2 separate regions of the Homo sapiens genome follow, and region 2 is linked to region 1. Evidence: fine-mapped QTL for protein levels in blood plasma. A gene starts in region 1. The other region holds a variant in brackets. All regions are shown on one strand. Distances are between the middles of the regions. Region 1 holds the start of NFASC (neurofascin). Region 2 overlaps NFASC (neurofascin).

The links. A credible set is the group of variants that fine-mapping cannot tell apart. PIP is the posterior inclusion probability: the model's chance that the variant is causal. Sun 2018 read protein levels with aptamers (SomaScan).
Region 2: its variant is the best candidate, but not a certain one, in a credible set for the plasma level of the NFASC protein (Sun 2018, PIP 0.52).

The regions. Positions count from the first base shown.
Region 1 is chr1:204,822,457-204,833,430 of GRCh38, forward strand. NFASC (neurofascin) reads left to right here and starts at 6,196. Exons shown (of 30, transcript NM_001005388.3): 1 at 6,196-6,326.
Region 2 is chr1:204,971,468-204,982,441 of GRCh38, forward strand. It overlaps NFASC (neurofascin), which reads left to right. Exons shown (of 30, transcript NM_001005388.3): 12 at 1,809-1,952; 13 at 2,712-2,823; 14 at 3,190-3,356; 15 at 3,804-3,951; 16 at 5,204-5,328; 17 at 6,214-6,258; 18 at 7,501-7,602; 19 at 7,895-8,092; 20 at 8,903-8,973; 21 at 10,331-10,553. Among named protein-coding and RNA genes, the nearest start is that of CNTN2, 66 kb to the right of the region's middle. RefSeq lists a silencer at 4,262-4,381. The variant T/C (reference allele first, on the strand shown) is at 4,721.

The DNA of each region.
Region 1 (10,974 bases):
ACACTGCTGCACAGATGAGAGGCTGAGTCTGGCAGAGGAAGAGTTTTTTGTTTTGTTTTGTTTTGTTTTTCACACCAGAGATGTTTAAGCTGAGTCTTCAGAAAGGAGTACATCACAAAGACAAAGTGAGTAAGGGCTTTCCGGAAAAGAGATTGTTTTAATATATTTTGTTTTGGGTTTTTTTTTTTTTTTTTTTTTTTAAGGACCAGAATGTCTCACTGTGTTGCCCAGGCTGGAGTGCAGTAGCTATTCACAAAAATGGTCATTGCACAATGAAGCCTCCAATACCTGGGGTCAAGCAATCCTCCCACCTCACCCTCTCAAGTAGCTGGGACTGTAGGCATGCGCCACCGCACCAGGCTTTTAATATGTTTTAACCATTTGATTAAGATGAAATGAATGCCTTTGTGGTTAGCTGGGCACAATCACTCTCAAGACTATTAACACAAATACGTTTGCAAGACAACTGCAAAAGGAAAAGCTCTTTTGATAAAGGTTTTCTAAATTCCAGGGTTCCCACCTGGGGAGGGACCATATTTCCCTGTCTAGGGACAGGATTATGAAGCAACCCACCTAGAAGACCAGTCCTCAAAGTCCTCCAGAAAGACAAGGTTTCATATGTTTATAGAGAGAGTTTGCAGTTGGGCTTTTCTTGCTGGTTGGCTCATTAGAAGTAAGAGAGAGAGAAATAGCTTATTTTACTACTATTGTTAATAAACAGGTATAGGCCTGATATGGTTTGGATCTGTGTTCCCACCCAAATCTCATGTCAAATTGTAATCCTCAATGTTTTAGGTGGGGCCTGGTGGGAGGGGATTAGATCATGAGAGTGGTTTCTCATGGTTTAACATCATCCTCCTTGGTGCTGTCATCGCGATAGTGAGATCTGGTTATTTAAAAGTATGTGGCACCTCCCCTTCACCTCTCTTCCTCCTGCTCTGGCCATGTGAAGATGCCTGCCCTTCTGCCATCAGTAAAATTCCCTGAGGCCTCCCCAGAAGCTGATACTGCCATGCTTCCTATACCACCTGAAGAACCATGAGCCAACTAAACCTCTTTTCTTTGTAAATTACCCAGTCTCAGGTATTTCTTTATAGCAATGACAGAACAGACTAATACAAGGCCTTTCATCATGGTAGAGAAAGACTCCAAAAATCCTACTCTTTCTAATATATTTATGCAGGTGAAATTCAAAGGTAGTCTTTAAAGGTGGAAACATGCTCTGTATAAAAGCAGACGGTGGGGCAGTTCCACCCTTTGCCTCCCTCACTCTTGGAGCAGGGACAGGTCTGATACCCAGGCCTAGAGTCAAGGCTGGTTAATGGCTATTCCAAAGCTTCTCTCTCCTCCTCTCTAACTTCCCCATTCACTGCCCCATCTCTCAAATTCCATTCCAGGAATGGAATTTCACCTACGTACAGTGGAAGACTAATTCTATGTAGCTTGGGGAGGTCTCTGCATCTGGAAGGTAAAAGCTCTAACACATGCACATTTCCAAGTGACTTCATAAACTGAGCTCTATGGCTGGCCCTTGGCAGTGGTGGGCAAGAGGCAACTCCCAAGGAGATTTTTATTTTTTAATTTCAAAGCGGGAAGTAAGAGAGCAGATGGAAAGATGCTCTCCAGCTTGGAGTTGGGCTGAGTGCTTCCTTTCCTTTGGCTACTCCCCAGCATGGGGGGAAGAAAATTCTAGGCACTTGAGAATGTGACAGGTGTTGGGGGGTGATGAGGACCTGCAGACAGCATGGGGTCTCCACATCTGCCACTGCTTTGGATCACCAGCATGTGTGCACTGGCCAAATGGGAGAAGGACCAGAGCCCTGTTCCTGGATCCCTCCCTCCTTCCCTTAATGCTGTGTGCAAATTGGGATGCAACTTTCCCCCTTGGCCTAGGGAGAGACTAGAAGATGCTGAGGGAGAGATGAGATAAGAGATCAAAGAGTCTAGTAGCTTCTTGGGGGACCTATGGGAAATTCCTAGTGGTTTTTCCCATTGGCTTTCACTGCACCTGTCTTCCTGCCCTCCTGCATTATGGGGGGGGCCTATATTCCTGGAACTTTCTAAAATTTGCCCCTCTACATTCCTTCTGAACATGCTACTCTGCTTGCTTTTCTGCATCCTCATCCACCTGCTTTGCTAGAGCTCAGCATGACTATCACTCTGCTCTTGTTCTTCCTCATGATAGTGACACAGGATTGTTCCCTTGACCCCCTTTGTGGGCAGGAACTGGAGTGGCTCATTTCACTCAGCCTGCTGATGGCCACTCCTGGCAGAAGGGAGTGTGTGAGTGAGTGCGGGAACCAGAGTGAACGAATGCTAGAACTAGCCGGTCACTCCTCTCTGGTGGGAGCAAGCTCTGTGTGGGCCCTGCAGCAGCATCCAAGTGTGTTGCAATGGATGCTCTTTCAGCTCTGCTGTCCAGAGATGGCCAAGTGTCAGTCAGCTCAGTGGAAGGTCAGGGTGGCAGCCCCTGCCCTCTCAGCACCCGGGTTCTTGTCCAGTGTCCAGGAAGAATCAGGTCACATGAACTGTTTGAAAGGTGATGAGTGTGGAAGACTTTATTGAGTGGTGGTTGGCTCTCAGTGGAAAGGGAGCCTGGAAAGGGGATGGGAAGGTAATCTTTCTCTGAAGCCTGGCTGTCTCCATCTGGGCCCCTCTCTGAAGCCACACTGCCTGAAATTAGCCATGTCTATCCACAGTCTCTGATGTTCAGTTGCTTCTCTGCTCACTGCTCAGCCACTTGTCTCCTTGCCACTCAGCCACTTGTGTTTCTCTGCCAGCTAAAGTCTTTTATGGGCAAGGGATAGGGGCAGGGCAGGCCAAAAAGGCAACATTTGGGAGGAAAAGTGGGGTCAGCTATATCCACTTAGGGCCACAGTTCCAGGCTTAAGGGTGGGGTTTAGCCGGGAGCCCAGCCCTTTTGTATCAGTGGCAGAGTTTCTGTCCTTTGGCACTTGTTATACAATAGGTCGGCGTAAGGGAGTGTTGTGCAGTGGGAGAGGGTACACCCTGGAGACTCTAAGATCTTTGTCCAACTCCCAATTCCACCACTTACCATCTACAGAGTTAGGAAGCAGTCCCTGAGACCATTCTTACTTCTGACCAATTGCAAGCTCAAGCATTCCCAAGACCCCTCTTAGGTCAGTAATTTATTAGAAGGACTCATAGAACTGAGAGCTCATAGGCTCATAATGGTGGTTTATTACAATAAAAGGATACAGATTAGAATTAGCCAAAAGAAGAGACAGGTCAAGCAGAGTCCAGGAGAGTTGCATGTGCAGAGATCGCAGTTATTCTCTCTTGATGAAGCTGAGGACAGTGCTAAAGTCTCCCAGGAACAATGTGTGACACTGCATGCAAAATATTGCTAATCAGGGAAGTTCTTCCAATCCTTAGTGTCCAGGGATTTTATTGGGGCTCAGTCATGTAGTCATGGCTGACCATCCAAGTGGTTGACCTTAGTTTCTAGCCCCTCTGGAGGTTGAGCCGATGCATGCCCAAAGACCCCACCATCCATCATTGTTAGTATAGACTACCTGGTTTTGCCCAAGACCCCCAGGTAGATAAAGATACTCTTATCAGGTGAGATAACCAAGGACTCAGAGATGACCTCCCAGGAGCCAAGGACAAAAGTCAGATCTCTCTAGGGGCAAAGCTAACACTGTACCACACCCCATCTGTGTGATGCTGTACTCTTATTAACCTCACTGGGCATCTATTTCCTCATCAGTAAATTGGGGACAATGATCCCCACCTCACTGGGGTTTCTGAGGAATGAGTAACATAATATATGCAAAAGGCCTAGTATGTGAAAGGCTTCAACAAAAATTAGGTCCTTCCTAGTAAGCTTAAGGGCCTTTGCTCTTATCTTCTAAACTAGCCCAGGGCATTATTCCCTCTTTCCTCTTCTTCCCACCCTGTCTCCCAATTTGCTTTCCCTTTTCCCCCAGAAAAGGATAATACCTTTATTCCCTGTATGTCATTATTAACTTGCTTTTTAAAAAACAAATGTGTGTGTGTTATCATTGTTATAATTTTTAAAACTGTGCTATTGCATGGATTATTACAATGGATGTAATCATTGTCCTCTTGAGCCGCACTGAGTATCCTTGTGCATACACATCTTTGTGGATTGGGCCAGTGATTCTGCAGGCTGGATTCTTTGAGGTGGCATTGATGGGTCAAGGGTGTCATTAAAGTCTTGATGGTACTGCTGTATTGCTCTCCCAAAAAGGCCATACCAAGTTAAACCTCCACCAATGATGCACGAATCTGCCAGTTTCCCCACACTTCCTAGGGACCAGTGTGGAAGAGGATGGCTTCAAGTGCCCGAGACTCATACCTGGGGCTTTCTCTTGGTCTGAGCCCAGGATGAGGCAGGGCTTATGGAATTTCATTGGGAGGAATGAAACACTAGGGAATGTGAAAATCCTGTGACTTGCCATTCACCATGACAGAGGACACAGTGAGTGAGGTTTCAGGTCTGGGTTGAAAGTCCATGCTTGCTGAGGGTTCCAGCCAGAACTAGAGGTGCAAACCCAGGGAAGAAAAAGAAGCAGGAAGGCCAGATAAATGTCAGGAAAGAAAAAGAGCAACCACTTTCTGCCCTCGGTCCTGAGTGAGTCTGTTCCTGACACAGCAGCAGAACAGCCTGCAAGGTGCGTAGGCTCTTCTTAGTCCCCAGAGTCCATCACCAGCAGGGGGTGCCTCTCCCTCCATCAGGACTTGCCTGCAGCTCTGGGACACCACCGAGGCCAAGGAAACACCTTCACCCTCAGGGCCTCTGGGGGTCACCATGCTCCCTTTAGGCCCACACTTAATTTCTTTATACTAAGGCCATGAAACTTGAGTCCCAGTTCAGTTTCAACCACCAAACCACTGTGTGGGGTCCATCTCTCTAGACCTTCGTGTATTTGCTGTTTAAAAGTAATGAAGAAAGGGGAGGGAAGGCTGAACAATAATTAACATTTGTAAAGAACAGTTTGGTTCAGTACCTTATCTCATTGATGCTCACTCTATGCCCATTTTACAGATGGGAAAAAGAAGACTTAGAGAGGTTAAGTGAACTGCCCAAGTTTACCCTGCTGGTAAGCCAGGACTTTCTTGGCAAATCCTGTGATCCTTCAACTTGACCATATTAGAAGATTCTAGTATTGGTGAAATCTAAAACTTGTAGGGCCCATCTTAAAATAGCAAAGTAGTTTTAACTAGGCACTGTCAGATGCATCTGGGCTTTGAATTATTACTTGGGCAGGTTCCTTGAACTTTGGTGTTCTCATCCAGAATAAAAGACAGTGGTGCCAGGGTAGGAGCTATGAGCACAGAGAAAGTAGCCCTTGAATGGGGCCACAGAGGGATGCTGCAGGGGACTGTAGTTTTGGATGAGGAGCTGAACTAGAAGCTTCCAAGTGCTCTTCCAAGACAAAGATTCTATGATTCCCTAACTGGGATCTTTCCACTGTTTCAGGTGATAATTCTGAGCTCAGATCCTGTGCACAGAACCTAATGCAGTCTTCGTGTCAGAGCTAGAAGAGACCTTGGGCGACCACCCAATCAACTTTTCATGGTTCAGTTGTGGAAACTGATGTCCACAGATAAATGTCTTGCTATCATGTCAGATAGTTCTCCAGCCACGACTGAGGCCTGAGTCCCCCTAGGGCAGAGGAAATCTCCCATTTCTAAAAGAAAGCCCCGCACTGTTCATAGCAGTCACAACCTCTCTCACATCCCTGAATCAGGATCCAACGACTTGCCAATCAACAAATGTTGCTGGAGAGTTTACCACAAACAAGTCTCTGTGCTAGGCCCTGAGAACACAAGCTGTCCGGCAACTTCCTGCTCCCTAAAGTCACAGTCTATGGTGGAGGTGCAAACAAGCGATCCTGTTGGGGCTTCAGGGTACTTCCTCCTGTGTGCTTTGCACGTAGTAGGTGCTCAGCGAACGGAAACGGGGAGACTAGTTATCACTCTCCAGGCAAGCCCGCAAAGAGGCCTCAGGTGAAAAGAGAAAGGAGGATTTTTTTTTCCGGCCCTGGCTCTGCGCACCGCTCCCCAGCGCGCCAGGCGGGGCTGCGTCCGGAGCATCCTTCCCTCCGCCTCTGTCCTGGTCCCCGCTCAGCGGCCGCTAGGAGCGCGAAGGGAGGGGCGCGGGGGCGCGCACGCAGGGTGTCGGGGGCGCGCCGGCCGCCCGGGGACGCGCACGGGCTGGTCTCTGCCCTAATGCGGCGGCTGGCGGCGAGAGGCGCTGCAGGGGACGCGGGGGAAGTGGCGGCGCCGGCAGCGGACAGCTCGGACAGCGCCCAGGGCCGGAGCCCGAGCCCTTGGAGGTAGGCGAGCGCGAACACCGGAGAGATGGGGGTAGAGAGTCATGGAAACCCACCTAGCGACACCCCCTTGTTCCCGCCCTCGTCTGTCTCCATCCCCTGACCTGCCCCCTCCCCCTCCGTCCACATTCCCATCCCTTCCCCTCTCCACACTGTCACCTGCCCCGAATCCATCCGATTCTGTTCGTATGCCCACCCCGTCCCCGTCCAGCTCCCAGCCCCCTGCCCACCCCAACACCCTTTCTATCTCGTTGGCCGCGTCCCCTCCCCCTTCCCGCATCCTCAACCCTTTCCCTTTCCTCTCTGTCCCCGCCTCATCCGTGAGCCCTGCCTGCCCTTGTACTTCTGTTTACCTCGACACCCCACTTTGGATGACCCCATGCCTCCTGTATTTCCTACCGCACACATCAGCCCCTTCTTGCCTCCCCTATTCTCTTCCCCATCTCATGCCCCTACCAGTTGGTGTCCTGTCTCTCCATTTGCTCCCTCAGTTTCTGTCCTCCCCTGGTTCCCCCTTGCACGCCCTGTCCCAGCCCCTTCCCAGCTGCCTCTTGGTGTCCTCCTGCATCACAGTCCCTCTCAAGAACCCCGCCTTCTCCCCCCTTTGGCTGTTAGCTGGCCTGACACCCGTCACCTTCCCTAGCTGCCCTTCCTGGTGCTGTGTGGAGCCATACAGCCTGTACCCAGCCCTCCCTCAGTGGCCTCTGGACCCCCCTTCCCTGGGTGGGGATCTTGGTTGTGGAATATAACCCCTTTCTGCATGTTCGATCCTATTTGTGGCTTGGGGAAGAATGCTGGGGGTTAGTAGGCCTCTCTCTTATGTTCCTCTCCAGCCATGCAGCCACTCTACTCCTCTAGCTGTTCAGGTTTGTTTCCTAGATGGATTGGGGGAGGGGGTGCTAGGCATTGGGAAACTAGGATGGGGAAGGGGCAGGGTCCAGGGGAATGACTGAGCAGACTCCTCCTGGGGCTTGGCCTGAGCCCTGATGTAAAGGCCTGGATGAGGAGCCCTGCTGGAGGGCTGGATAATTTTGGATTTTAGAAAAGATTCTGCTTCAGCCTCCAAGTCAGCACTTTGGCATCTGGAGCTGTCATGAGTGTGGCCCATGGGCTGGGCCAAGAGTGGGCAGAGTGCTGAATCACCTAGAATCTGGTCCCCATGGCAGCCCCCATCCTGTCCTGAGCCAGGTTCTGCTCCTGACTCCTTCCTTGGCATTTTGGCATGGGGTGTGTGTGTGTGTGTGTGTGTGTGTGTGTGTGTGTGTGTTGAGCAGAGATGCCTCATCCCTCAGTGTGGGGGAGAGGACAACAATACCCCTTTTCTGCCTGCCTGTGTCCCTGGCATGAGGGCCTAGTGCGTCTCATCTACCCTTGGAAATGTGCTGGGCCCTGCTGGGCCTCAGTCAAATCTCCAGCAAGGCAAGGGCAAGCCACAGGGCTTTGAGACCTGGTTGGACAGGAGTTTAATTGTTTGTGTGGAGCCAAAGCCAGCCTCAGAGCCCACAGAACTTAAAGCAATAGGAGAATAGCCCAGGGAAAATGTGTGTGAAGAGTGGAAGCCTCTGGGGATAGGGGCCATACCAGCTGTGAGGTGGGGGCAGTGGAGGAAGGCAGGCAGAGATCTATCCTCCTTCTGGTTTGGGGATGATTGGATGTGGTGGAATTGCATTGCAGGAAGAATTGAAGGAGATGGGGGCCTGCTACGCAGCTAATACATTTCACCTTTTGTCTTGACTGAGCTGGCACTTCGGAGGGAGTAATTTCTCCCCTTGTCTTTGGATTCAACTGAAGGGGTGTGTTGTGTGTGTTGTGATGTGTGTGTGTGTTGTGATGTGTGTGTGTGTTGTGATGTGTGTGTGTGTTGTGTGATGTGTGTATAGAGAGAGAGAGAGAGAGAGAATTATGCCAGTAAGGAAAGAGACTCACTCCCACTTAGCCCCAGAAATTGTGGTTGCCACTGTGGAACAGGGAATGGCAGCCCGATTCCTGTCTTAGGGGCTTAGACGAAACCCAGAGGCTTAAATTGAGGCGTTAAGAGCGAATTGCAGACAGACTCTGTCCCTTCTCTGCAAGGCTTTCACTTTAGGAATCCAAGTGACTGGACTCCTTCAGCTCCTGTGCAGTAAACTCTGAATGGGCCTCAGGCAGTGCCTGGCAAGGGGATGTGCTGCTGGGGGCACTGGCTGCACCTTGCTTTGTCACCCTTCTCCGTCGCCTCTCCAGCGTGAGAGGGGGTGGGGCTGGAAGCTTTCCCTGGCATCAGTGCCTAAGGGCTGCCAGCTTTTCCTGGTACAGGGAGAAAGCATTACCTGCAGCCGTTGTTGAGAGCTGATTGGATTAAGGTCCTGATGTTGAAATGCTTGACTGGAGCTCAGGTGAAGTGGGGGATTCTAATAACAGTGTACATATTTCCCAGTTTTGTGCAATGAATTTCACCCCTCACCCCCTTGTTTGGCATCAGAAAGAGTACGGAGAAATAAACCAAGGCACACGGAGGGAGAAGCCAGCTCCCCAGAGAGCTGGAGCAAGACCTTCCAATTGTACCTAGCCAGCTCCCTGTGGGCTGAACTGGCTGCGCTCACAAGGGCTGGTTCTTTTAAGGCACACATTGAAGAGGTGGCTGAGAGCTGGGGGTGGGGTTCTGGCTTTGCATTTCTGGGGTGGGTGGGCCAGAGGAGGGTCTGATTTCTGTGGTGAGTGAGAGACAGGATGCCAAGGCTCTGATCAGTATATTGCAACTTGTTTCCTACCTCTGGCTCCACTCTTCTCCCTCAGGCTTTTTTGGAGGCCAGAGGCACCCTGAGATCTTCAAGACCATGGAGGAGCTGGAGTGTGAGAATCATCCCTTTGTCTTTAGAAAAAGAAATTCTTAGGAAATCAGAGAGGGGGAAGCAGAAAAATTCAGTTCTCAGTCTGTTTGCCTGGGGTGATGTTTGGGGTGGGGAGGGGAGAAGTGAGAGGAACGTAAGGCCGGTTTCATACTTACTCATTTAACAAAGATCCATTAAGCCCTACGGTGTGCTGCTCTGCTAGGTGCTGAGACCATAGAGATGAAAAGTAAGCTAGGGTCCAATCTCTCCGAGCTCCTGGGCAATGGAAGAGGAAGACAGGTGATCAGACAAATAACAGATAAGCTTGAGCAAGAGCATCCGGATAGGGATGTTACACAGCGGGATCTTTAATTCCAGTGGTATCAGCACCCTGCTCTCCACAGCTATGAAGAGGGCTTGGCTGATGCTATCCGGAATGGTAGCTCAGGGCTGACCCTGAAGTTGACTCTCAGGAAAAGGGTAGGGGACAAGATGAGGTTCAAGGTGTTGTCAGATCCCCAGCTTGAAGGGCTAGAGGGGTAATGTTCTGTGTGAACACCTGTGTGAACAAGGTGAACCCGGCTAGATGTGGCTAGAACCTGATAGGGGAATACCCAAAGGGAGCTCTGTGATGAGGTCGAGGCTGCTTAACTCTCCCAATCCCATCTTCTAAGCTCTTGTATTTTAGGGGTAAAGTGTGGCTGGATATGCTTAGAATGTCAGTGAGTCAGAGGAAAGAGGCTCTGGGAGCTACTCGTGTGTAGGCAAGATGCACAGGGATGTGCTGAGAGGCAAGGCGAGGAAAAATATTGTGAGGACTGCAAGGTTCACACACCTGCAAGGTGTGTGAAAGGATTTGGCATTATGGGGAGGTCAGAGTCAGGTGGGAGTCATTGATGGGGAGGGCAAGTTGTTGGTAAGCAGGAGAGGTCCTTAGAAGCTATACACTTGACCACAGATTCCCGCAAATATCCATAGCCGAAGTGGGAAAATAGCCTAAGGAGAGAGACTGTCAGTTTCATCTGTCTGAGTAGCCCCTCTTTTCCCCCACACACCCATTTTTGTTCATTTCATCAATGTATCCTGAGCCTTTGAATCTGTCAGGAGCTGTGCAAGCTATTGGGCATGTAAGTCAAATTGGAGACACAGAAATGAAACCAAATTAAGACTCAGCACAAGAACTGCTATAATTGAGGTTAGATGAATTCCTGGTGTTGTAGGAGCATGGCTGAGGGGTCATAGTGAGCAGTAGGATCTGGAGTGATTGCACCAAACTGTCTGGACAGACCCCTGCCTTGGCTTGAGCAAGTTGATGACAAACCTTTGGGCACTTACAATGCCCAGCTAAGGCCCAGGTCTAGCTGCAAGGGCCCAGGCCTAACTGTAAGGGCAGATGTTGGATGCATATGGCCTGGTCCCTGGACTGCAGAAGAGGGCCTGGGAGTTAATGGCTGTGCGGGGTGCTTGAGTAGGCACTTCCACAGCTTTGCTGACCCAGGACATTGGTTAGATTGTGCCAGCTTGAGAACTCTCAGGCCACCCTTTTTTCATTAGGTCTTGAGGCAAGCCAGAAAAAAATAAAAGTGGCGTAATAACAATAGTCACCATTATCGAGTTCTTTCTATGTGCTAGGCACCCTACTCTATGCTTTATATGCATCATTTCATTTCATCCTCAAAGGGTTAACCCTACAAATGAGATATTGTTAAGTTGCTGGTTTTACAGAAAATGACAGATTCAGAGAAGCTGTTACTTGTTGAAGATTACAGAACAGGTGAGTTGCAGAGCTAGAATCTAAACCTTTATTTGTTTGACTTCAAAGCCTGTGCTCCTCTCCCATA
Region 2 (10,974 bases), 150 kb after region 1:
TGGGGAAAAAGTAGATGGCGAGAACTCAGTCTAACTCAAGAGCAGCAGCTGGTAGAAGCAGGTGGAGAGGGGGGGACACAGGTAGAGGAGAGGGTAAGAATTTACCTATTTAGACATATATTGTATGCCACATTCTGTGCTAGATGCTGCACTCCATTGTTGCTTTACTTTCAAACATTTAAGGTAAGGAAATAAGGTTCTCCTCAGTGCAATGAGTTGCCCAAAATCGCATGGCTAGGAAGTGGTGAAGTTGTGGGTTGCTGTGAGTCTGCAATACAACTGCACCAGCTAGTACTGAACCTAGTTATCCCCAGTAAATGTTACTCCCCAGCTACAAGCAGAGATATGGACACTGCCTGCCCTCTACAGTTCTCTCCGTCTTAATAGGACTTTGGGGGTAAGCTAGGCAATTGCGCTAAACTTTACAGCACCATTCAATAAAGCAGCTCAGGACTTGCAGCTGAGCCTCAGCCCTGGAAAGGTCACCTGTCACTCTCCCCAGGGAACGTGTAAGGAGAGTGACTGGGGGGATTATTGGTTGCACGAGAATTTGCCAGGCAAGGAGGTGTACAAGTTTCTGGCATTGCCTTCCTTGGTCCCTTTTCACTGAGTGGGGACCCGGGCGTGGATGATAAGGGTGCTAACTTTGTCTTCCTTTCCCATCTGCTGATTCCCCGGTTCTGGGCTCAGGCTGGCTATCTGTGGAGTGGCGCCTGCAGGGCGACTCCTGCATCCTCCGCTGACTTCCCCTGTAGGTCTGAGTCATCTTGAATGCGTTCATGTACTCTGTAAGCTAAGTCATCAGCTTCCTAGTCCAGAAATCTTAGGAAGGAAAGTCACTTTCTAGTGGTTAAAGATGAGAAAAGTGGCAATTCTTTACATTTCTAGAAAATTTTTGTTTTTACAGCTCATTATTGTTCTCTTATCTTAGCCTTTCTTAGAGTAGGGGAAAGGTGGAAGTGATTCTTCCCCATCTTACAGAAGAAGGAAATGAGGCCCAGAAAGGTTTGTTGATTTACCCCAGATCCCAGAGTGAAGTGTGGACCCCCAGCCCTCTCCAGCCTCTGCTCTCTGCATCCCAAGCCAGCAGTACTAGAACTGTGGGCAAGAATATCCTCTCTCAGTTTAGGACACATTTTTGGGGAAGAGCTGTGAGCTTTGTCAAATAAAATGACTCATTCCATTTTCAAGAGGCATTGGCTTATGGGTTTAACTTTATGAATGTTTGGAGCATGCTCTCTTTGGAGGATGGGAAGGTGGTAGGTTCTGTCTATTGTATACTGTTTTGTCCTTTTCAAAACACACTTAAATATATGCACATTCGATTAAAATGATAATAACAGTATGTGTTAGACCTTCTGTTCATCATTTTGTACATGCATAAAATCTCAGGTTATCTTCACAAAAACCCCATGAGGTGATCTGTTATTCCCATTCTGCAGACAAGGAAACTGAAGCTCACAGAGATTGAATGATGCTGGTAGGAAGTGATGTGGTTAGAACCAAAACTCCTTTCTGTTTCCAAAGCTAATGCTCTCAACCACAACTGCCCAATGGGTAGGTAGGTCGAACAGGAATTCATATTCCATACTCTAGGCTAGATTAGAAATAAACCCCAAAGGTTCAGAGAAGGGCTCAAGGTCACACACAGCCCAGCAGTGGCAAGGCCAGAAGCCCTGTCATCTGGCCCCCCATCTGGTGCTCCCCACAGCACCCCGCTTGTTCCTGGGAGCCCTGGCCAGAGCCCCAAGTGCCCTTCACCCTGCCCTCCCCATCTCTCATGAGGAGCGTCTCTTTCTTGTCTGTAGCGGCACCACCTAACCCAAACCGTGAGGTGGCCGGAGACACCATCATCTTCCGGGACACCCAGATCAGCAGCAGGGCTGTGTACCAGTGCAACACCTCCAACGAGCATGGCTACCTGCTGGCCAACGCCTTTGTCAGTGTGCTGGGTGAGTGTGCCCTTCGCAGCCTGTTTCCCCCTCCTCTCCACTACTGCACAGTCGCCCTGGGGCTTGGTTATGTCGTGGGGCACACTTTCTTCTCCGGGGATTGGCCAAGCTGGGTGAGGTAAGAGGATGTTGGATAGGGGAAACATGGAGATGGGAAAAAATTTGTGAGAGGGATGGAAGGGTCAAAGCTGGGAGGAAGTTAGCAGATCATCTGGATCAACCTCCTCATTGTACAGATGGAAGACTTAAAATTCACAAAGCTGGATGAGCAGACAGTTAATTCCATCAGAGCAGTCAATCTTAGTCTTCTCCCTCCCCTGATGAGATAGAGTGGGACTGTCCCATCGCCTTGGTGTATCCATGTTGACTTCCCCTGGGTTCGCAGCTGGATCTCACGGTGGGAAATGGTTCTGAGTATATTTGCTGTACCCGCTGGGCAGGGAGATGGTGGTGGAGGGGTAGCTAGGAAATGCCTTAGGGCTGTGATGGGGCAGCTATGGAACCTGCTGGATAATTTGGGGAGACCCTTTGCAAAAGCTGGATTTGGATGTAGGGTAGGTTGAGGGCAGAGGACGTAGTAAGCTTCTCCTTCCCCACCTAATCCTTAGGGGCTTCCTGAAGGAGGGAAGGTTGATAGGGGAAGGTGTCTCAGTGCCTGGGAAGCTGCTGTAAGCAGAAGGCATGCAGAGGTGAGACCGAGGGGGAAGAGATGGAAGAGTTTAGACTTGGCACTCGAGATTGCTTCTCTGGGAATTTCAGATGTGCCGCCTCGGATGCTGTCGCCCCGGAACCAGCTCATTCGAGTGATTCTTTACAACCGGACGCGGCTGGACTGCCCTTTCTTTGGGTCTCCCATCCCCACACTGCGATGGTAAGTTCCAGGAGATCAGGCCTTCCACAGCAGGGGTCACCTGTCTCATCTTCTCCTTCCCATCTGGCCCATAGTAGGTGTTCAGCAAGACCTGGGAATCTTAAAGGGTCAAAGCTGGGAGGAAGTTAGCAGATCATCTGGATCAACCTCCTCATTGTACAGAATGGGAAACCAAGACCTTGAGAGGGATGGAGGCTTGCCAGGGCCACCTGGTGGCTAGAGGCAGACCCTCCGAGGCTCAGGGCTCCAGTCTCCTAGCATGGGGCTCCTTCCACAGCCCCCATGGTCTCTCTTGATTGGCTGCTGCCCCTGCCCTTGGGCTGGTCCTGTCTCAGGATGCTGTGTGTTCTGCTGCTCTGTTGTGAGGTTTAAGAATGGGCAAGGAAGCAACCTGGATGGTGGCAACTACCATGTTTATGAGAACGGCAGTCTGGAAATTAAGATGATCCGCAAAGAGGACCAGGGCATCTACACCTGTGTCGCCACCAACATCCTGGGCAAAGCTGAAAACCAAGTCCGCCTGGAGGTCAAAGGTAAAGGAGAGGGTTCGCCAGTGGGAGTTTGGAGAGGGACAAGGAGGCCATGCTGGCAGTTATCCACATACAATATTCACATTGAAAATGCACCACACCTGTCTTTAACCTGGAGTGGGCTGCCCAGTTTGCACCTGTGGAGTCCTTTTAGGATCAGTGTGGTCCAAAGAGAATTAGGAAGGGAAACCTTCTGCTCACACCAACTCCCCACTACCAGCCCAGAAATTACATCATATATTCCTGAGCCAGATGGAGTGGATTTGGGGCATTATCTGCTTTGGGGATTACCCACCCAGAACTCTGCTCCGTTCATACCATAGCATACTGTTTGTGCCCCACTCCATAGTTGGCCCAAGGCCTCGAGGGCAGACATATGCCACTTTGTGGCCGCATGGGGATGCTGGGCAGAGAACAGGCCAGTGGCGAGTGCTCTGGGCTTCTCCACAGACCCCACCAGGATCTACCGGATGCCCGAGGACCAGGTGGCCAGAAGGGGCACCACGGTGCAGCTGGAGTGTCGGGTGAAGCACGACCCCTCCCTGAAACTCACCGTCTCCTGGCTGAAGGATGACGAGCCGCTCTATATTGGAAACAGGTTTCTCTTCCCCCTTCCCCCTTCCTAGTGCTAGTTTGAGGCGCATTTTCTTTTCCCTTGCTGTTGGTGACACATGGAAGAACACAGGGACAGGGAACCCGTGTCATGCATGTCACCAAGGAGCTTCTGCAGAGGGGGTGATGGCCTGGGCAACTCCCCTGCTTCAGGGGAGACCCCCCCACCGACCCTGTACAACCTCCCTCTCTCCCACCAGCTCCCTGCTTCTCTCTCCTACACCTCCTCTCTCTCCCTCTTCTCAATCTCTTCACTTCTCCTCTCCCTGTCTCCCCTCACTTCGCCTCTTTTCCCTTTCATTTTTGCCCCTGTCTTCTCTTTTCCTCCTTTGCTGCATCCCAGGCTCCAGCCTTTCAGCCCTATTTGCAGTACCCCTAATCTTCAGCAGAGGGCAGGGTTGATCTGAGCCAGCTCTCAGCCCTGACTGAACCTGGCATGCTTTTACCACACCCACGCCTGCCCCGCTCCTCAGACCCTGATTTCATTGGTGTAGGGTAGGACTTAGGACACTGGCAGGGTTTAAAAGTCCCCCTGGGGGTTCCAGTGTGCATCAGGGTTGAGAACCACTGTTCCGAGCCTCCCTCCCCAGGGCTTACTTTGCTTTACCTTCTTCCACCCCGAGGGAGCAAAGTTGTGCAGGGCCCTGCAGTTGGACACGGTACCAGCGGTTTCTAGCCATCATTTGACTTTTTGCAGAGGGTGTTCCCCTCTGTAAACCTTCTGGCACTCAGTGCTGACAGCTCTACAGCCCCAT[T/C]CTGCTCTGTGGCCTCCCCTCTCTATAGGAGACAGTTCCCAGGAGCCTGGGGTCAGGCTGGCCTGAGCATGGGTGCAGAGGAGACAAGTCTGGGCTGAAGACAGACAAAGCTACAAGTATGAGAGGAGAAGGAATACCAACCTACCTTGGGGTCATGGGCCTCATGGTGCCCTCATCTGGGAGGGGTGCACAGCACAGTAAAGGCACAGAGGCAGGCACACGTACAGAATTTGAAGGTGGCAAACGTGCTTCACAGCCACTTGAGCTCCGCCCACTCTCTGTTCCCCTCCATCAAGTATGATGAGTGCTCCAGGTGACTGTGAAGACCTCACCTCTGTCAAAGCATTGAGAGGGAGCCTCATACCCCCAGAAGGAGCTTCCCTTGCCCTCCTGACTCGAGAACCCCCTCTAGGGAGAAAGCAATGGGCAGGACTCAGCACTCCCCTACCCCCTCCTCCCAACCCTTCCTCGGTACCTTTGCAGGATGAAGAAGGAAGACGACTCCCTGACCATCTTTGGGGTGGCAGAGCGGGACCAGGGCAGTTACACGTGTGTCGCCAGCACCGAGCTAGACCAAGACCTGGCCAAGGCCTACCTCACCGTGCTAGGTAACTGCCCATGCTCACCCTGGCACTGACCAGCCCCACCCCCTCCCCAGCAGCCAGAGAAGCAGTGGCCCGGGGCAGTTCCGAGGGCAGTGCCTGCAGTCAAGTGGCCGGGTCAGGCGTGGTGATCTCTTCTTGCCTCGTGATGTCAGGGTTAGGGAGCTGCCAGTTTCAGAACAAGCTGTGCTGGACAGGTTACCTCCTGAGTGGAGTCATTAACTTCCCCACGTCTCAACTGAAAGGGGCCTGAGTGATATAGAGAAAGTGGAGAGGGGTTTCTCGTTGTGATCATTTTACCTTTCTTACAGCTAACTCCACCACTAAGTCAATTAAAACAATCCATCCTTAAAGCAAGACTGAGTTTGTGTTTGTGCTTCCAATGACCTCTGCCAGCCTTCCTTTCCCTCCCGCTCCATCCCTGGGTTTTGGTAGCGTTTCATCACATGCTATGCACTAAGCAAGATGACGTTGTGTCTTCCTGTCCTGCACCCAGGCTGGACTGTAAATACTAAGCTAACCCAAACCAAGAGGAAGGAGGCCTCTCCCTTCCAGGCAAGCAGGTCCTCTGTCACCTCTGCCTCCCCGTGGGTGCCCTACTGCCACTAGCATTGGCGCAGTGGAGAGGCACAGTTGCAGAGAGGGTGGGCCCAGACACGATAGTCACATTGGGATGGTAAGGAAACAGAGGTGCCGCCCCCAGCTGTGGAGGAAACACAGATGGCCTCTATAAGGGTAGGGGATTCCCCATGGAAGGACGGGGACAGCCCTGCCTAGAACACCTCAGCCCAGAGGCAGCTGTTTAAGCCTCGGCTGCCTACCCCCATCCTTCTAGAACACCTTTAATGCTGGATAACCTGCTAACCTGGATAACCCGTCTTACCTTTGCAGCTGATCAGGCCACTCCAACTAACCGTTTGGCTGCCCTGCCCAAAGGTAATTCCCACTAATCACAGTCCCCTGCCAGTGCCCTCTCTTGGCACCCAGGGTGTGGAGTCTGGGAGAAGGAAGCCACTTTGGGAAAGGGCGACAGTGTGTAGGTTTGTGGGCAGCACTCCTGGCTACATGGGACCTCCTTTGAGTTGCCCACGTCCACCTCCCCACGGCCCTTTGCTGGGCTTCCTGCTCCTTACAGGGTGAGCTCGGAAGTTCTCGGCTGCTGTTTTACCCCATCCCTTGCCTCCATCCACACTCACCGCTCCCTCAGGGTGGCCTGTCCTCCCAGCAGTCTTTCAGGTCCTGTTTGCAGGGAATGCGAAAGCCTGCTCCCTTCACATCACCTGGAAACTCATTGTTCAGCCTCCCTGCATCTATTGCTTTCTATCCATTTACAATCTACACACACATGCCACACATACGTGAACGTGGGCCTGTAGGACTCACCTTCCAAGTCCTTCTAGTGACCATCTGAAAGATGGAAATACCTGGTTCAGGGAGTCAAGATGGAGAGAAAATCTTGCCTACCCGTACCACTCAGTAGCCGATGTCTTTATCCCAGGCCAGGATGGCACTTAGACCCACTAAAGCAGTCCCAGTGAGATTCATGCCCTAAAAAAGGTGCTGCCCTCACCCCTGTTTGCAAGCCTGCTAGGCTTCTGTCCTGCTGTCCATCAATGAAATGCCTAAGCCAAGTCTCCATCTCCTCCCTGGTCTGATCCCCTCTCTTTGTTGCCCCCACTCCCCTAACCCATCTGCCATGTTCAGCAGGCCAAGCCCTCTCCTGGGTTCCCATCTCCTCAGAGCCTTGGCACACAAAGTAGAGGACAATTAATGTGAGAAAATGGGACAGAATCCCACACTCCCTCATCAGCCTTCCTAAGTGTCGTGAGCATGGGTCTGATGACGGGTGGCATTCCTGAATGCTTGCACTCTCAGAAGATCCACCAAGACGGAATGGCGTTGGTCCCAGTTCTGTCTGCATAAGCCCCTTTATTTCCTTGTTCCACACCCATTGATATTCTTTGTGGGGGGGGGCTGGGATTTCAGGAGTCTCCTCTTTGTTTTCCCTTGGGCCCCTGTGGGAAGGGAGTGGTCCCTGTGCTCACCCCTCAGGGCAGGCTGGGGTTGGATCCAGCTGGTAGCGAAGACAGCCCGTCAGGGAGCTGTCCAGGGCTAGGGCCATCACAAGGGTGGACCTGCTCTAACTCAGGAGGCCTGCGTGGTGTCTTCTGCCACCAGGACGGCCAGACCGGCCCCGGGACCTGGAGCTGACCGACCTGGCCGAGAGGAGCGTGCGGCTGACCTGGATCCCCGGGGATGCTAACAACAGCCCCATCACAGGTAGCTCAGGGCCTTGCACCCCAAAGCTGGAAAAGAGGGACGGCAACACCCTTAAACCGAAGGCCTTTCCTGGTTTCCAGCCCCACTTCTGCCTCGCTTGATGTGTGTCCTGGGCTAACCTCAGAATGTACAGAGGCCTTGGTGTCTCTTCCTGTGCCTTGGGAAGAATTCTCCTTGTGCCTTTGTGTGAGAGAGATTATAAAGATCAATGGAAGCCAAGAAGGAAGTGCTTTTAAAGAAGACCACTGCTAACTGAGCTCCCGAAACAGCTCTGTTTTCCTTGCCCACTCAGACTACGTCGTCCAGTTTGAAGAAGACCAGTTCCAACCTGGGGTCTGGCATGACCATTCCAAGTACCCCGGCAGCGTTAACTCAGCCGTCCTCCGGCTGTCCCCGTATGTCAACTACCAGTTCCGTGTCATTGCCATCAACGAGGTTGGGAGCAGCCACCCCAGCCTCCCATCCGAGCGCTACCGAACCAGTGGAGCACGTGAGTACCCGAGGGCTGCCAGAGAAGGCTCCGGAACCCCGCACCCCAAACTCACACTGAGATCCCCCCATTCCCAGCCATGTGAACTTAGGTTACTTAACTTCTCCAAGGCCCGGCCTCATCTGTGAGGCAGAGAGTAATAATAACACCTACATCACAGAGCTGTTGTGAACATTTGAGAATGTGTGCCAGGTACTTACTATGATGCCTGGCATGTAGTGAGCACATGATAAATGCTAACTTCCATTTTTATTATTAGTAATTCTTGATTATCTGCTTTAAAGGGGAGAGCTGTGGCAAAGAGGTACAGCAGAAATACATAATTCAGTGTGAGAAATATATAAATTGGTATTACATCAGATTTCTTTTCCTAACACTCTTGGGTAATATTTGGATTTCTGAAATCACACCAGCTCATAGAGGGTAGAGATGCTGCCCAAAAAAAATGTTAAATGCCAGGGATAAGCCAGTCTGGTATGAAACACATTTAGTGGATAATCCACAAAGGAGCTAATCCACATTGAGTTGGCTTACTGACCACCCACAGTGTGGAAAGCCTTATGATAAATGCTGTCTGGTAAAGGATTAAAATTCAGAAGAAATTAGCCCTGCTCTGGGAGTTTAAATCTCAGCTCAAAAGGCACATCATGCACAGAGTAAGCTCATTTACATACCAGACCAAGCGTATACATAGATGCCGAGGAAAGACAGAGCATAGAACAGACCCATCAGGTAGGACAGAGGAAGGTTCCTTACCTTGCCCTGGAAAGGCACAAATTGGACTTGAGCCTGTGTCTGTTTGGGTTCCAGCCCCCGAGTCCAATCCTGGTGACGTGAAGGGAGAGGGGACCAGAAAGAACAACATGGAGATCACGTGGACGGTAAGAGGCCCTCCCAGCCCCAGTGGAGCAGCTCACCTTGCCGCATGCACCGGGAGCCCCTCTCCCTTGATGCCCCGACACTACGAGGCCATGATGTGGTTCAGACTCTCTGGCTGGTCTTGGTGGCCATTCTTCTTTGAGAAACCAAGCTCCTCTCTGAGTTGGGCATCCAGAAACCAAACAGGACAAATGTCTAAGTGTAAGATTTCAGAGAGGAGACAGGAGCAGAGGGGACCAGGGTCCACCGACTGCCAGTCTAGCAAAACGCATAGAGGATGCAGCAAAATCAAGCAGACTTCTCTTGAAGGAGGAGGGACTGGGGTTAGACTTTAGAAAAGATCTAAGCACAACACCAAACCAAGTTCTGGTGTGTCCTAGGGCCCTTTCACTGGAGATTTGTGGGAGCTGGGGAGAGACCAACATCTGAGATGTGTCCAGTACAGGCTTTCTTTTGGTCCAAGAATGGACTAGGTCATTCCAAAGACTCCCTCTGGTCTTAGAAAATCCCATCTTCATGCTGGCTCACTGACTACATTTTCCAAACCAAAACTGGAGTATGTGGTCTCAAAATGACTTTTTTCCCAAACCACTTCCCAGTCTGAGAATGCAAACGCAGCCACTGAAATATTAACATTTCTGAGCTTCTGCCATGAGTAATGGAAACTGGGAGATGCAGTGTTTGGGATCATGACCTTCCCTGTCTTTCTGAAGGCTGCTCCCACAGCAGCCTTGGCCAAACAGGGCAACGGCAGCTGGGCTGAGCCCAGATTCAGGACCCTGGTCTGTGGCTCTGTATAGCAGGCTCCAAGAGGACTGATTCCTGGGCCAGGCCCTTAGAAAATAAAGAGCAGAATCACACCCATGTTTAAAGAACTCTGACCTCTTGGGAAGGACAGGACAGACACACACAAATTCGGTAGAACTAAAGTCCATTCTGGAATTTTGAGTTCATTAGCAGGAGCCATGCTGTGGTTAACCACAACTCATTTCTTCTGACTTTGGAGAAGTTTACCTTTTGTCTATATTTTGCTTTATTGGTTGCTCCTGTCACAGGAAGGAGTTTTGTTGAAAATAAAACCTTTGCACCTACAAATGCGGGTGGCTCTCAGAGTCAGAGTAACTGGGTCTCAGGCGAAGCCTGTGTCACAGAAAATCTGCATGCTGCTGGGTTCACAGGACCTTGGGCTTTTGGGGGACTCACTGGGGTGGGGGATATGGTCTTCCCTACCCTGCAAGGGGGCAGGCCAGTGTTGGGCACATCTGGAAGGGATGCCTGGCACAGCAAGAGAGGGCAAGCTGTGGGTGGATCTGGGCCCCTCTCTGGCAGCCTCTCCAGCCTGTCTGTCCCTCTGCCCAGCCCATGAATGCCACCTCGGCCTTTGGCCCCAACCTGCGCTACATTGTCAAGTGGAGGCGGAGAGAGACTCGAGAGGCCTGGAACAACGTCACAGTGTGGGGCTCTCGCTACGTGGTGGGGCAGACCCCAGTCTACGTGCCCTATGAGATCCGAGTCCAGGCTGAAAATGACTTCGGGAAGGGCCCTGAGCCAGAGTCCGTCATCGGTTACTCCGGAGAAGATTGTGAGTAGTCTCCTCCCCGTCCCCCCATCAGGACCCTTGTGGCTAGGTCGCACGAGGCCACGCTCACAGGCCAGGAACCTTGGGGTGGGTATGGGAGGACAGCCAGTTCCCAGGAAGGAAAAATGTTCTGTAGTGACCTAGAGCAGACAGGCACCCAGTAATGTCAGGAGTGGAAATATCATCCGAACGTAGTTGGAATTACTGAATGTCATCACCCAGTCCAGAATTCTCATTTCACAGATGTGAAAACTGAGGCCCAAAAAGGGAAAACCCTCGGCAGTGTTCCATAGTCATCAATGTCAGTCTTGAGAACAGAGCCCAGGTCTTCCGATCCCCTGGCAGTCTGCCTTACTGCTAAGCCATACTAGTACCAAGAAAAAACATCAGGACTACCCATCCTAAAGAGCTATAATTAGACACT